Regions from separate parts of the Homo sapiens genome. Here region 2 is linked to region 1. A link means that fine-mapping ties the variant in region 1 to the expression of a gene that starts in the linked region. Tissue or cell type: whole blood. Region 1 holds a variant in brackets; the other region holds the start of a gene. All regions are shown on one strand. Distances are between the middles of the regions.

Evidence for each region. PIP is the estimated chance that this variant, and not a neighbour inherited with it, causes the effect.
Region 2: it holds the start of GPRIN1, and the variant in region 1 is fine-mapped to the expression of GPRIN1 in whole blood (TOPMed, PIP above 0.99).

The regions. Positions count from the first base shown.
Region 1 is chr5:176,574,572-176,582,506 of GRCh38, reverse strand. CDHR2 (cadherin related family member 2) reads right to left here. Exons shown (of 32, transcript NM_017675.6): 8 at 7,298-7,423; 9 at 7,081-7,227; 10 at 6,926-7,001; 11 at 6,668-6,783; 12 at 6,322-6,555; 13 at 4,953-5,108; 14 at 4,709-4,870; 15 at 4,412-4,473; 16 at 3,899-4,142; 17 at 925-1,164. Among named protein-coding and RNA genes, the nearest start is that of CDHR2, 29 kb to the right of the region's middle. RefSeq lists a silencer at 3,785-4,079. The variant T/C (reference allele first, on the strand shown) is at 3,871.
Region 2 is chr5:176,607,175-176,612,174 of GRCh38, reverse strand. GPRIN1 (G protein regulated inducer of neurite outgrowth 1) reads left to right here and starts at 2,019. Exons shown (of 2, transcript NM_052899.3): 1 at 2,019-2,176. RefSeq lists silencers at 493-787, 1,689-2,318, 2,379-2,438.

The DNA of each region.
Region 1 (7,935 bases):
TAGGCCCGCCTCAGTTGCTCAATCAATAAAACGGTAATAAACCGGGCTCAGTGACTTATGCCTGTAATCCCAGCATTTTGTGAGGCTGAGTTGAGAGGGTCGCTTGAGGCCAACAGTTCAAAATTGGCCTGGACAATAAGTGAGACTCTGATTCTATGAAAAATAAATTTTAAAAATTAGCCAAATTAGCCAGGCATGGTGGCACGCATCTTTAGTCTTAGCTACTTAGGAGGCCAAGGCGGGTGGATCGCTTGAGCTCGGGAGTTCAAGACCAGCCTGGGCAACATGGAAAAACCCCATCTCTACAAAAATAAAAAAATTAACCAGGCATGGTGGCATATGCCTATAGTCCCAACTACTCAGGAGGCTGAGGCAGGAGGATCGCTTGAGCCTGGGAGGTTGAGTCTGCAGTGAGCCATGATGGCACTATTGCACTGCAGCCTGGGTGACAAAGGGAGACCCTGTCTCAAAAATAAATAAATCAATAGATAAATAAATAAAAACAAAATGGTAATAACCATCCCAACCTTGGCGGATGCCCTGATGTGCAATAGACACCAGCAATGCTGATTTTCACCCCTTCCCTTTGCTTTTCAATGGTGGCAGGGAGACAGGAGGGTTTCAGGTGGGACTTTATGAGTGACAATTAGAGCTGATATTCACTGATACTGTCTATAGGTCAGGCACTCTACCAAGCACTTTCCATTCATTAACTCACTTAATCTTTAACCTTTTTCACCCCCGTTTTATAGATGAGGAGCCTGAGTGCCTAGGGAGGTTGAGTAATTGCCTGGGGCCATACGAGTGAGCGGGATTGTAACCCAGGCAGGCTGGCTGCAGAGGGCAGAAGTGTGACTCAAGCTGGAGGGGCTGGCTATCGGCTTGGGAGGCCCCCAGGCCCATCCTGGCTAAGCGAGGCCTTACCTCCACAGTGATGGTGACATTGACTTTGGTGCCGAGGACAGGCTCGCCGCAGTCAGACACAAGCACTGTCAGCACAATGCGGCCCTCCAGGGCGGGGTCGATGGCCTCTCTGTCCAGGGGCCCCAGGTTTCTGAGGAGCCCTGTGTCAGGGTCCAAGGAGAAGTTGTGGCTGTAGGGGCCAGGCAGCAGGTTGAAGAGCAGACGGCTGTTGTTGGTGCCCGGCTCATCATTGTCGTGGGCCTGTGCACGTAAGCAGGGGTTGGTCATCGGCCATCGGCATTCCCAGCCCCCAGCCCCTCCGATGCAGCCGGACCCTCCTCTCCAGCGCTGGCCCACGCAGGCAGTCATCAGGCCTGGAGCCCCTGGGCCCATCTCCCAGCCCCAGTTTCCCATCTAAGAGGCTCAGGTCAGCAGTTTGCAAGAGCTTCTGAGATCTTCAGCACTGAGGCCATTCTTTCATCTCACAAACGGCCACTGTGGACCTACGTGCCCAGCCCCGTTCCAGGTGCAAAGAAAGAATAGAGCCATCATCAAGACAGGCCCTTTTGCTACTGATATTCTAGCAGGAAGGGGGATATGGGGGCAGGAAATTGTAGACAAAGAAAGTTTTAAACTCATAAGTGTGAAGTCCAGCAAGATTCTCATTTTCCCATAATGACTACTTCAGTGCTATATACATATTTTTTCTTTTTTCTTTTTTCTTTCATACAGTTTCGCTCTTGTTGCCCAGGCTGGAGTGCAATGGTGCGATCTCTCTTGCTCACTGCAAACTCCTTCTCCTGGGTTCAAGTGATTCTCCTGCCTCAGCCTCCTAAGTAGCTGGGATTACAGGCACCCACCACCACACCAGGCTAATTTTTTGTATTTTTTAGTAGAGATGGGGTTTCACCATGTTGGCCAGGCTGGTCTTGAACTCCTAACCTCAGGTGATCCACCTGCCTCAGCTTCCCAAAGTGCTGGGATTACATACAGGCGTGAGCCACCACGTCTGGCCCTTCTTTTGTTTTGTTTTGTTTTCTTTTTTTTCTTTCTTTCTTTCTTTTTTTTTTTTTTTGAGGTGGAGTCTCACTCTGTTGCCCAGAGTGGAGTGCAGTGCCATGATCTCAGCTCACTGCAGCTTCCAATTCCTGGATTCAAGTGATTCTCCTGCCTCAGCCTCCCAAGTAGCTGGGATTACAGGCATGCACCACCACACCCAGCTAATTTTTGTAATTTTAGTAGAGATGGGGTTTCACTATGTTGGCCAGGCTGGTTTCGAACTCCTGATCTCAAGTGATCCACCCACCTCGGCCTCCCAAAGTGCTGAGATTACAGGCAGGAGCCACCATGCCCGGCCGTCAGCGCTATATGTTTTAAATAGCTGATTCTTCACTCACTTTGTATGTCTGTGAGTGCGTGTGTGAGTGTGTGTGAGTGCGTGTGTGAGTGTGTGTGTGAGTGCGTGTGTGAGTGCGTGCGTGAGTGTGTGTGTGTGTTCCTGTCCTGCCAGGGCCCTGAAGGCATGCTTGGTTTGTCTTTGGGGTGAACCAGTGTGGATAACACAGCGGGTTCCTCTGTGCCGCCAGGCCTTTGCAGGTTCCGTTCCCTCACCCCGATGCCTCCCACACCTTCCCTGCCTGACTCCAGGCCAGGTTGGCGCTTCCTCTGGGCCTCAACATAGCACAGGTGACACCGCTGGGTGACTGTCTGACGCCCTCTTCCTAACTGGGAGCCGCCTGGGGGGCAGGAATGGTGGTGGACTCATCTCTGAGGACTCAGGGCCCAGCCAAAGACTGGGTAAGTGCTCAGCAAACGTGGCCTTGAATCCAGAGTGGGACCACTCCGACTCAACCAATTCTTTCCTTCCTCCCAGCCAGTCTCCACCTTCAGCTCCTCCATTTCATTCTGCTGGGACCTTGTTTATTACATGCATCCTTTGAAAGCAGCTGGAGATGTTTATTTTTTCCAAAAGCCTCATCCTGTCTGCTCATCCTTTGGTGCCCTGAACTCAGGCCAGTTAATTCATCAAGTGCTCCCTGGGGCTCATGCTGGGCACCACGGTTACAGCAGCCGACCAGAAATGCTCCTGCCCCAAGGAGCTCACAGACCAGGGGAGAAGTGCCAAGCAGGAAGGAGGAAAGGCCAAGGCTTCAGGGCCAGAGAGGTCTGGGCTGCAGCCCCAGCGCCATCATTTACTGGCTGTGTAACCACAGAAAATCACTTAACCTTTCTGAGCCTGTTGTCTCCTGAGAAATGGGAACTATTAGACCGCCTGCTTCCAAAGCTGGTCAAGAGATCAGGGATAGGAACATGCTCTGGAAACTACACAGTCCTGGAAAGACGGGAGGGCTCTGTGGCCACCAGATTGTCACTCTGAGGACCTGGTTTCTCACTTCTCACAAGATGCCTCAGGGGCGAAGCTTCCGAACTCCTCAGGACGAGGGAGGAAGCTACTCCCCGGTGTTTCTCTGGAGTCACTAGTGGGTTTTTATCTCATGAACTCTGTGAACCTGGCCACTGATCTCATTTCCTTTTTTGCTTTGGCCACCATGAAGCTCAGATCAGAATTTGCAGCTCACTCCAAGCAATTCTGTAGCACTGGGTTCTAATTTTACCTTGTGCCCTTTAACAAATGCCACCTTTATTTTCTCTTTTTTCTTATTTCTTTCATATTTTTATCTTACTATTTATCTAAGCCACCTCAAGTCCTTTTTGGAGTGGGGCAGGTGGGTAAATAAAAAAGAAGTGTATGTTTTTGAGGGATTTCTCTGGCAGGCCCAGTGCTGAGCTCCTCACACAAGTCATTAAATTATTCCCCAATGACCCTGAGAGTAAGGCTATAATTTTCTTCATTTCCTGGGAGGAAACAGAGACTCTGAGTGACTGTCTCAGAGCCACACAGCGGAGCCCCGACTTTACCCAGGGCCAGCATGCCCACAGAGCAGGCTTGGTCCCCTCCCCCAGCCT[T/C]ACCCACCAGGTCCAGGCAGGCTCACACCTGGATGGTCACGGAGACATTGCCCTCCTCCTCCTGGACGAAGATGTTGTAGGAGCCGCTAACCACGGGTGCATTGTCGTTGATGTCCAGCAGGTGGATCTGCAGTGTGGTGGAGGAGGACAGGTTCCCGCCGTCTGTGGCCTGCAGCGTCAGGTAGTACACGGCCTGGCTCTCCCGGTCCAGCAGCTCACCGTTCCTCACCGTCACCGTCCCTGAGACGGGATCCACTTGGAAGAGGTCTGCCCTGCTCAGAGGGGCCAGGTTCAGCAAATAGAGACACAGGATGCCCATTTCAGTGTGAATTTCAGATATACAACAACAAATATTTCAGCATATCCCATGCAGTATATGCAACATATTCATTATTTCAAAAAGTCATTCCTTGTTTATCTGAAATTGAAATGTAACTGAGTGCCTTCGGTCTTCCCCAGCTATTCTATCTCTGCAGAGAGGCAGAGAGGTGGGCCTGGGCCCTGCTCACCCACCTGCCTACGGCCCACCCTGAGCCCTTACCCATTTCCTGGGAGCAGGCTGTAGGTAATTTGGCCCCACGCGCCCGTGTCTGGGTCCGTGGCCTGTGAGGCAGAGACATGGCAGGGTGCTGTGTGGAGGCGATGCACGCACCGCCACCCATGCAGCTCGTGGGGACAGAGCTGTCGTGCTTCCTCACACAAAGGGAGAATCCCCAGCACACTCAGATTCACTCATGGCCACCCCCATCTCACACATACACACACACACACTCTCACACTCACACATGCACGCCCGCTTGCTGGGACCCCACAGCCCCACTGTGTCCACATCACTCACGTGGATGCTGTCGGTGACCACAGAGCCGGTGGCGCTGTGCTCTGGCACCGTGAGGACGTACAAGCTCTGGGGAAACGTGGGCCTGTGGTCATTAATGTCTCTAAGGTGGATGGTCACCATGGCGACGGAGAAGTTCTGGCTGACGGAGTCTGTGGCCACAACCTGGGGGCAGGGGAGGAGGCAGCAGCTGTGGGGCCCAAGTGCCCCTCGGCTTCTGCCCCTGGCACCCCGGAGCAGCCCTCACCTGCACCGCCATCGCCGTCTGCCTCTCGTAGTCCACCAGCGCGGATACTCTCACCAGCACCTGAACGGAGGCTGAGCCCACTGCCCGCTCCGGGGAGACGCTGAAGGCTTCTGCATCGGGGCCCCCCAGCGACAACAGGAAGGTGCCATTGCTGCCCTGTAAAGGTGGGCTGTCTAGCAGGGACCTGTCCCCCTGCTCTGCCCACCTGCATCTTCCCCCAGTCCCCAGGCTTCTATCTCTGGATGCCCCGCCCGATGAGGTCCCATGGAAGGGGGCTCTCAAAAGACTGCGAGAGAGGGTGCAGGAGGCTGGGCTGGTCACCAGTCCCTGCAAATGCAGGCTCTGTAGAAGACAGCTCCCTAGGCACTGTGGGTCCCAGACCTGGGCTGGAGCCTGGACACACACCCCTCACTCCTGTCAGCTGTCCCTCCCACCCACCCTTCACATCCCCCACCCCCAGCCCCCACAGCAACACCAAACACCACTCACACCCTACGTCACCCCACTGGCCAGTGCCACCCTTCTGGCCAACCTAACCCCACCCGACACTGTCCTCCACGCAACATTTCCAACCCCTCAGTATCACCTAACACCATACACCCTCCAGAGTTACTCATCCTCCAGCGCCACCGTGTTACCCACCTCTCACTGCAGCCTCCACTTAAGAGTGCCTCCCATGGCTGGGCGCGGTGGCTCACGCCTGCAATCCCAGCACTTTGGGAGGCCAAGGTAGGTGGATCACTTGAGGTCAGGAGTTCAAGACCAACCTGGCCAACATGGTGAAACTCCATCTCTACTAAAAACACAAAAATTAGCTGGGCGAGGTGGTGCACACCTGTAATCACAGCTACTTGGGAGGCTGAGGCAGGAGAATCCCTTCCACCTGGGAGGCAGAGGTTGCAGTGGGCCAAGATTGGGCCATTGCACTCCAGCCTGGGTGACAGAGCGAAATTCCATCTCAAAAAAAAAAAAAAAGAGCACCCTCCCACCTCACACCCTCAGACCACTTGTCCCAACACTGCTCAGCCTCCCCCAGTTCCCAGGACTACCCAAATCATGGCCGCCCAATGCCAGGAGACCTCGCCAGCCACCCATCACCACGGACAATGATGTTCTACTCAGCATCATCTGACGTTCTACGTCAGCCTCCACTCAGCATGGCCTTCTATTCAGCCCCACACGGATCGCCCAGAGGATGATACTGCTTACCAACACAGGCTTCCAGAGAGCACCCAGCACCCCCATTCTCCGCCATCACACCCTGCACCACCAGCACCGCCACCCAGCACCACATGACACCGTCACTCGATCCAGGCTCCCACTGGCCTCCCCCAGCCACCCCCGCCCACACCCACGCCACCACGCCTGCCTTGTCCGGGTCGTAGACCACCATGGTGAGGTCATCGATGGGGATGCGGGGGGAGGCATGCTCGTCCACGTAGCCAGTGAAGTTCACTTGGGCCTCTTCGGGGGTGAAGGTGCAGGCTGGGAGGCTGCAGTTGTAAAACTCAGGTTTGTGGTCATTGACGTCCATCACTCTCACTGTCACCCAGATGCTCACCTTGGCCTCCTGCCCGTAGATGTTGAGGTGTGTCTCGGTGGCCTGAGGCACAGAGCAGAGGGCAGAGGGCAGAGAGCCAGTGCTCAGAGAGAGAGATCAAAGGCCAGAGGTTAGAGAGCAGGGTTCTGACAGGGGTGGTGGGGCCTTTGCTCACCGTGACCTGCAGCTGCACCTCCTCATCCGCCTCCAGCAGCTGCTCACGGTCCAGGGAGCCGTTGACCCTGATCACCCCATCTGCCCCGATGTCAAACCAGCCGGGCCGCGTGGAGTCTGGCAAGGAGAAAGGCGGAACAGCTGGAACAGCTGCTCCAGTGGCTCTGACGGAGCCCCAGGCCCATTGCCTCCAGGGACTCTGACGGAGACCCCACCCTGGCCCCGGCCCAGCCCTGGCCTGGGGACACCCCGTTCTCACAGGAGATGCTGTAGATCACAGGGTCATTGATGCCTTTGTCGCCATCCACAGCCTCCACCGTCAGCACCGAGGTTCCCTGGAATGGGGCCTGGTCAGTGCTCCTCAAACTTCCCCGCCTCCCGCCTCCACCCACACCCCACAGGTCCCCCGTGCACCTTGGCTGCATCCTCAGCCACAGAGGCCGAGTAAAACTCCCTGACAAACTGGGGGTCAAGGTCAGGCTGGTCCACCACGGAGATGGACAGGAAGACAGGCAGGGAGCACTGGATGGTGAAGGTGTTGTGGTACATGCCGCCCAAGTCCTGCGGGGAGATGGCCACCCGTGAGCCAGCGCCGTGGGTCCTAGGCCCGCCTGCCGGCACCCCCACTCACACAGGCCTTCAGCTCCAGCTGGTAGAAAGCGCTCTTGTTGTTGTAGCTGAGGCTGCCATTGAGGACTATGGAGCCATTGGCCAGGATCCGGAAGAGATGCTCGCTGTCCCCAGTGCTAGGGATGACCTGGGGCAGAGCAGACTTGGGTCAGGCTCCCTAGGGACAGCCCTGCACCGAGGACCCCACTCTGAGCAACGCAGGGAAGGTCCCAGCTCTGCCACTGACCAGTCACGCCACTGGCACCAGGTCATATGACCTCTCTGAGCCTCAGTTTCCAGCTCCAGGAAATGGGGCTGGTGACAACCCTCAGTGGGTTGAAAGGAGGATCCAATAAGATGCAGTCGGCCCTCCATCTCTGTGGCTTCCACATCCACAGATTTGACCAGCACAGATCAAAACTGTAGCTAGGCTCACTCACAATGGTTGCGTCTGTACTGAAGGTGTACAAACTTTTTCCCTTGCCATGATTCCCTAAACAATATAGCATAACATGCTATAGTTACATAGTATTTGCATTGCATTGGTATTGGAGGTAACCTAGAGGTGATTTAAAGCACACAGGAGGATGTGTCTAGGTTACATGCAAATACTACCCCGTTGCATGTCAGGGACTTGAGCAGCCATGGATTTTGGTGTCC
Region 2 (5,000 bases), 31 kb before region 1:
CCATGACCTCCGGCACCAGCTGGAGGTGGATGGGCTCCCTTGTCTGCCTTCAGCTTTGGCCACGGCAGAACTCAGTTCTGGACTCAAATGTATCAGCACGGCCATCCTATAAACCCCTCTTTCCCCCCAGAGCTCATAAATTATCTGTCCTTCATCCACCTGGCTCCCCAAGGCAGAATCTCAGAGAGACAGCAGAGTTCTCTCTCCCCTCCACCCACATCCACCTCATGGTCAAGGCCTATTGATTTTACCCCTAGATAGGTATCCAATCTGACTCTTCCTCTCCATCCCTACAAATGCCGCCGTGGTTCAGGCATCATCATCGCTCACCTGAACACCTGCCATAGCCTCCTCACTCCTGCCTAGTCTCTGCTCCTGTCCACCCTTGTCCTGTCCCAGGGGGACCTTTTTCGATCACAGGTTGGTTCTTGCCACTTTTCACATCTGTGAACTTCTCCAAGCCTTAATTTCATCTGTGTCATGGAGCCAGTAATGTTTACTTTGAAGGGCTGTAGGGAGAAAAAAATGAAATGATGAATGTGGAATAAGGGTTTGTAAGCTCTGAAGCGAAATGGCCTTGTGGGCAGTGAATGAGCAATTTTCAGGACCGGAAATGTGAGGAAGCAGCCCTGGTGTGGTGCTGTCCGTGGTTCTGAAACCGGTCCGACACGCTGAGGTTTTCTCCTTGCCTGGCGTGCTGCCTGGAGACGCCAGTCCCACGGATTTTCTTCATTTATCACCTAGAATTTTAAATATATATATATATATATATATATATATATATATATATATATATATATATATATATATATTTTAAAGGATCACGGTGACTTACGGTTCACCAAGTAAGAGAGGGGAGTAAAATGTAAGAATAAGAAGTGAGGTTTCAAAGTTAGACTGCATGGGTTTGTAATCCCAGCTCCACTACTAACTAGATGTGTGACCACAAACAAGTTACTTATCTGCTTCTCTTTTCTTATCTGAAAAATGGAGATATAATACATTAATATTAACTTGCTCCTAAGCGATTGGAAATTGAAATTAGATAAAACCTGTAAACAGAATCTTAGCGCCGTGTCTGGCCCTACATAAGCATCATTGCCAATGGTTGTTACCATTGATTAATAGATGGTGGTGGCTTCATAGTACCGGTGCGAGAGGGTTTTGTCACATCTAGAGCAATTACGGAATTATTTTTTCTCCTCTGGGAAGTCAAGGGGAAGGGAACTCCTTCTCTGCAGGGAAATGTGGAGGGGGTGGGCAGCGAGTCTCTGTGTCCTTGGTGATTCAGATACCACTGGAAACCCCTGAACACCTACTTTGCCCTTCCAAGACCACCGTGAGGTGCATAATGTTAGTCCCGTTTTACAGATCGAGAAACTGAAGTGCAGAGAGGTGAAATGATTTGCTCGAGGGTATCCAGGGGGAGGGGGGAGGGCGGGCGGGCCCCCGGGGAGGCCGCAGCCAGGGACTGGAAGGCATCTCTCCCGCACCACTACCTCCGGCGTCCCCGCCACTCGCTGGAGCGTGGGCAGCGGCGAGACAAAGGGCCGGGGGCGGGGAAGAGGAGGCCGGAAGTGCGGCCGGGGGTGGGGGGGGCGGAGGCGGGAAATTTCCTCGCTGGCGGAGCCGGGAGATCGCGCCGACCTGGGTCCCCATCCAGGCGCCTCGAGTCCTCAGGCCGGCGACTGCCCCCTCTGAGCCCCAGTTCCCTCCTTGGTCAAGCCAGGCGAGGGCTTTCGAGGGGCTGGTCTAAGATCTGCTAGACGGCGCGCCCCGCCCTCAGCAAGCTCGCAGCAAAGGGGCAGCCTCTCCGGCCCTCAGTCTCCCTGTCTGTGAAGTGGGAACCCGCTCGAGGACGGCGCGGAACCCGGGAGCCCAGCGGCCGCAGTTAGGGTTGGCCAGCGAGGGGCGCCCCTCCCTCGCTCCCTCCGGCCGCGGTTTCCCCGCGGTCACCGCCCCCTCGCGGTTCCGAGGCGGCCGGGCGGCTACTGCGCATGCCCGGGGCGGGGCGCGGGGCGGGAGCGCGGAGCCGGCGCTGGGGACGGCGGCGCCGAGTCTGCGGGTCCTCCCGCCAGCCCGGCCGGAGGCAGCCGAGGCCGCTCGGGCGGCGGCGGCGGCGGCGGCGGGAGCCGGAGCGCATCTCGCCCAGGAGCCGGAGCAGCGGCACTGCCTGGTAAGCGCCGCGCCCACACCCGCTGTCTTTCCGGGCGGGCGGCGGCAGCCCCTTCATCCGCTCGCTGCCGCCCCGGAGCCGCTGTCCAGGGTCCTCGAAGCCCCCCGGCGGCGGGGCTCGGACACCTCGCGCGGCATGAGCCCGGGTGTGTGCGCGCGGCTGGGGGCGGTGGGTGTCTGTTTCCAGGCTCCTCGCCGGGGCGGGGCGGGGCGGGGCGGGGCGGGGGCGGGTCCCGCAGCCCTGGGCCGAACATCAGAGGGGCCCGGCGGGCCAGGCTGACCTGGCTGTGGGGTCGGCCCCGCGCCCGGCCTTGCCGCCGCCCGCTGGCTTTGTTCGGCATGGCCGCGCGGGAGGGGGTGCTTCCCGCCACTGGGGGGAGGGCGTCCTCCCGCGTTGATTCATCTTCCCCGGAGCGAGCTCAACGCTCCACTGGCTCCACTCGCACTACTGAGCACACTCGCCGTCACACAACCAGTGTGGCACACACTCCGGGGCGCGATCACACAACACCGCGTTCACGCACGGGCGCCTCATTTCCTCGAGTGAGGCCACAGGTCTACCGCACACACACAATGGCTGTTGGTCATTCCATTAGACTCATACACACGGCCACCTGTCACCCAGGGTACTGGGTGGGAGCCTTGCGTACACACCCAGGCACAGCTACGCACTCAAACCAGCCATCGCGGATCACAGCATGGACATCAACTCAACAATACTCCCTGATCACAACACACTCGGGGCCACCCTGCCCTGGCCTGCTCACCCCTGCTCATGGGGTCCCTTGCGTACCCAGATACCCTGGAGTAGACTGCCACCCTTGTGCACACACTCCCTCTTACACACACACTCTGTCTCTTAGCGTGCTGCCCACTCCCACCCACACTGGCCCACGTTTGCACGTCCATGAACGTCCATTCTTGCCCTCCTATGTATGTATGTATGCATGGTCTGAGGGCCGTTTCTGGAAGCAGGTCTGGCTAACACCTTTAGATTCCTTCTCCCCCCACACCCCCGAGCAGGAGACTTCGCTGCTCTGAGGGCACTACGAGAGAAGGGGACGAGGGGCAGCAGACTGAGATTCTCAGACACACTCAGATGCCTGACGAAGTCCCTCAAGCCTTTGTTGGTCTTGTCAGCACAGAAGAGGTATTTGCAGGTGCTTGGCAGTTCTGGCCCTGTTTATGGGTGTAAGGATAGCTCCATGCTGGAAAGAAATCCTAGAGGGAAAGGAATGGCTGGCCAGGTCTCTGTGGCCTGAATGGGCAGCCACAGGGGCTGCTGCTCTCCCTGGGAGCAGGACACAGGCACCTGTGCAACACCCAGATAAGCTCTCCTAGGAGTGAGATACCCACAGGGTCCAAGTAGCCCCCACGAGGCACAAACACACAGGCCATTCTGCACATGCAGGGTGTACATACGCACAACAAGCTCTTCTTGAGCAGAACACAGGAGCCAGGTCCTGGCCCCAGAGTGGCCCAAGCTGGTACATACATCCACAAGCAGTCTGTTCACTCCTTTGCATGCCAGGTGAGCCCGCCTACATACCTAGCAGACATTTCTGCCTTCTGCCTCAGTCAGGCCACACTCAACCTGTTTGTGCCCAAGTGTACAGGCTCATCTGCTCATAGGGTGTGTGCGTTCCCACAGGTGGGGGAATGTATGCAGGGGGAGGGGAGCTCTTGCTTCTTCTACTGCATGCTCCTTGGCACTGTTGCTTGGGAGGAACCTTGGCCTGACCTCAAAAACCAGAAAGGGGGTTTTGAGAACCAAGTGTCAGGCCAGGTGCAGTGGCTCATACCTGTAATCCCAATACTTTGAGAAGCCCAGGCAGGAGGATTGCTTGAGGCCAGGAATTTGAGACAAGCTTGGGCAACATACCAAGACCCCCATCTCTACAAAAATTTAAAGATTAGCTGGGTGTGATGGCGCATGCCTATAGCTACTTAGGAGTCTGATGAGGGAAGATTGCTTGAGCTGAGGAGTTGGAGGCTACAGGGAGGTATGATTGTGTCACTGCACTCTAGCCTGGGTAACAGAGTGAGACCCTGTCTTCAGAAAAAAAAAAAAAAAAAAAAAAAAAAAAAAAAAAAAAGAGCCAAGTGTCAGTGTCCACGATCTTAGAAAGAACTCAGGTTTTGTGCTTGGGCACAACTGGCTTTGAGCTACAGCCTTCCCTCAGTTGTGTGCCCTTGGTCAAGTCTTGACCAAGTTGTGTGCCCCAGTTGTGTGCCCCAGTTGTGTGCCCTTGGTCAAGTCTTCTCCCTCTGACTTCAGTGGCCTCATCTGTGAAATGGGATGATAATGCCCCCCTCATGAGATTGTTGTGGGATCCAGATGATAAAAAGAGACTGAGACCGGGTGCAGTGGCTCATGCCTGTAATCCCAACACTTTGAGAGGCCGAGGTGGGTGGATCACTTGAGGCCAGGAGTTCAAGACCAGCCTAAACAACATGGTGAAACCCTGTCTCTACAAAAAATACAAAAATTAGCCAGGTGTCGTGGCACATGCCTGTAATCCCAGCTACTCGGGAGGCTGAGGCAGGAGAATCACTTGAACCTGGAAGGTGGAGATTGCAGTGAGCCGAGATCATGCCACTGCACTCCGGCCTAGGCAACAAAACAAGACTCGGTCTCAAAAAAAGAAAGACAGTGAGCGTGCTGGGCCCAGGTAATGGAGCTGGGTTCTAGTGGGGTAGTTGCGGGGAGAGAATGTGGGGCCTCAGGCCTGGGCTGCCTCTCAGAGAAGCAGCTCGAGGATCCTCAGGCCTCCCCAAGATCCAGGAAGGGCCCAGCAGAACTGTGAGCAGTAGAGCCTCTGGGA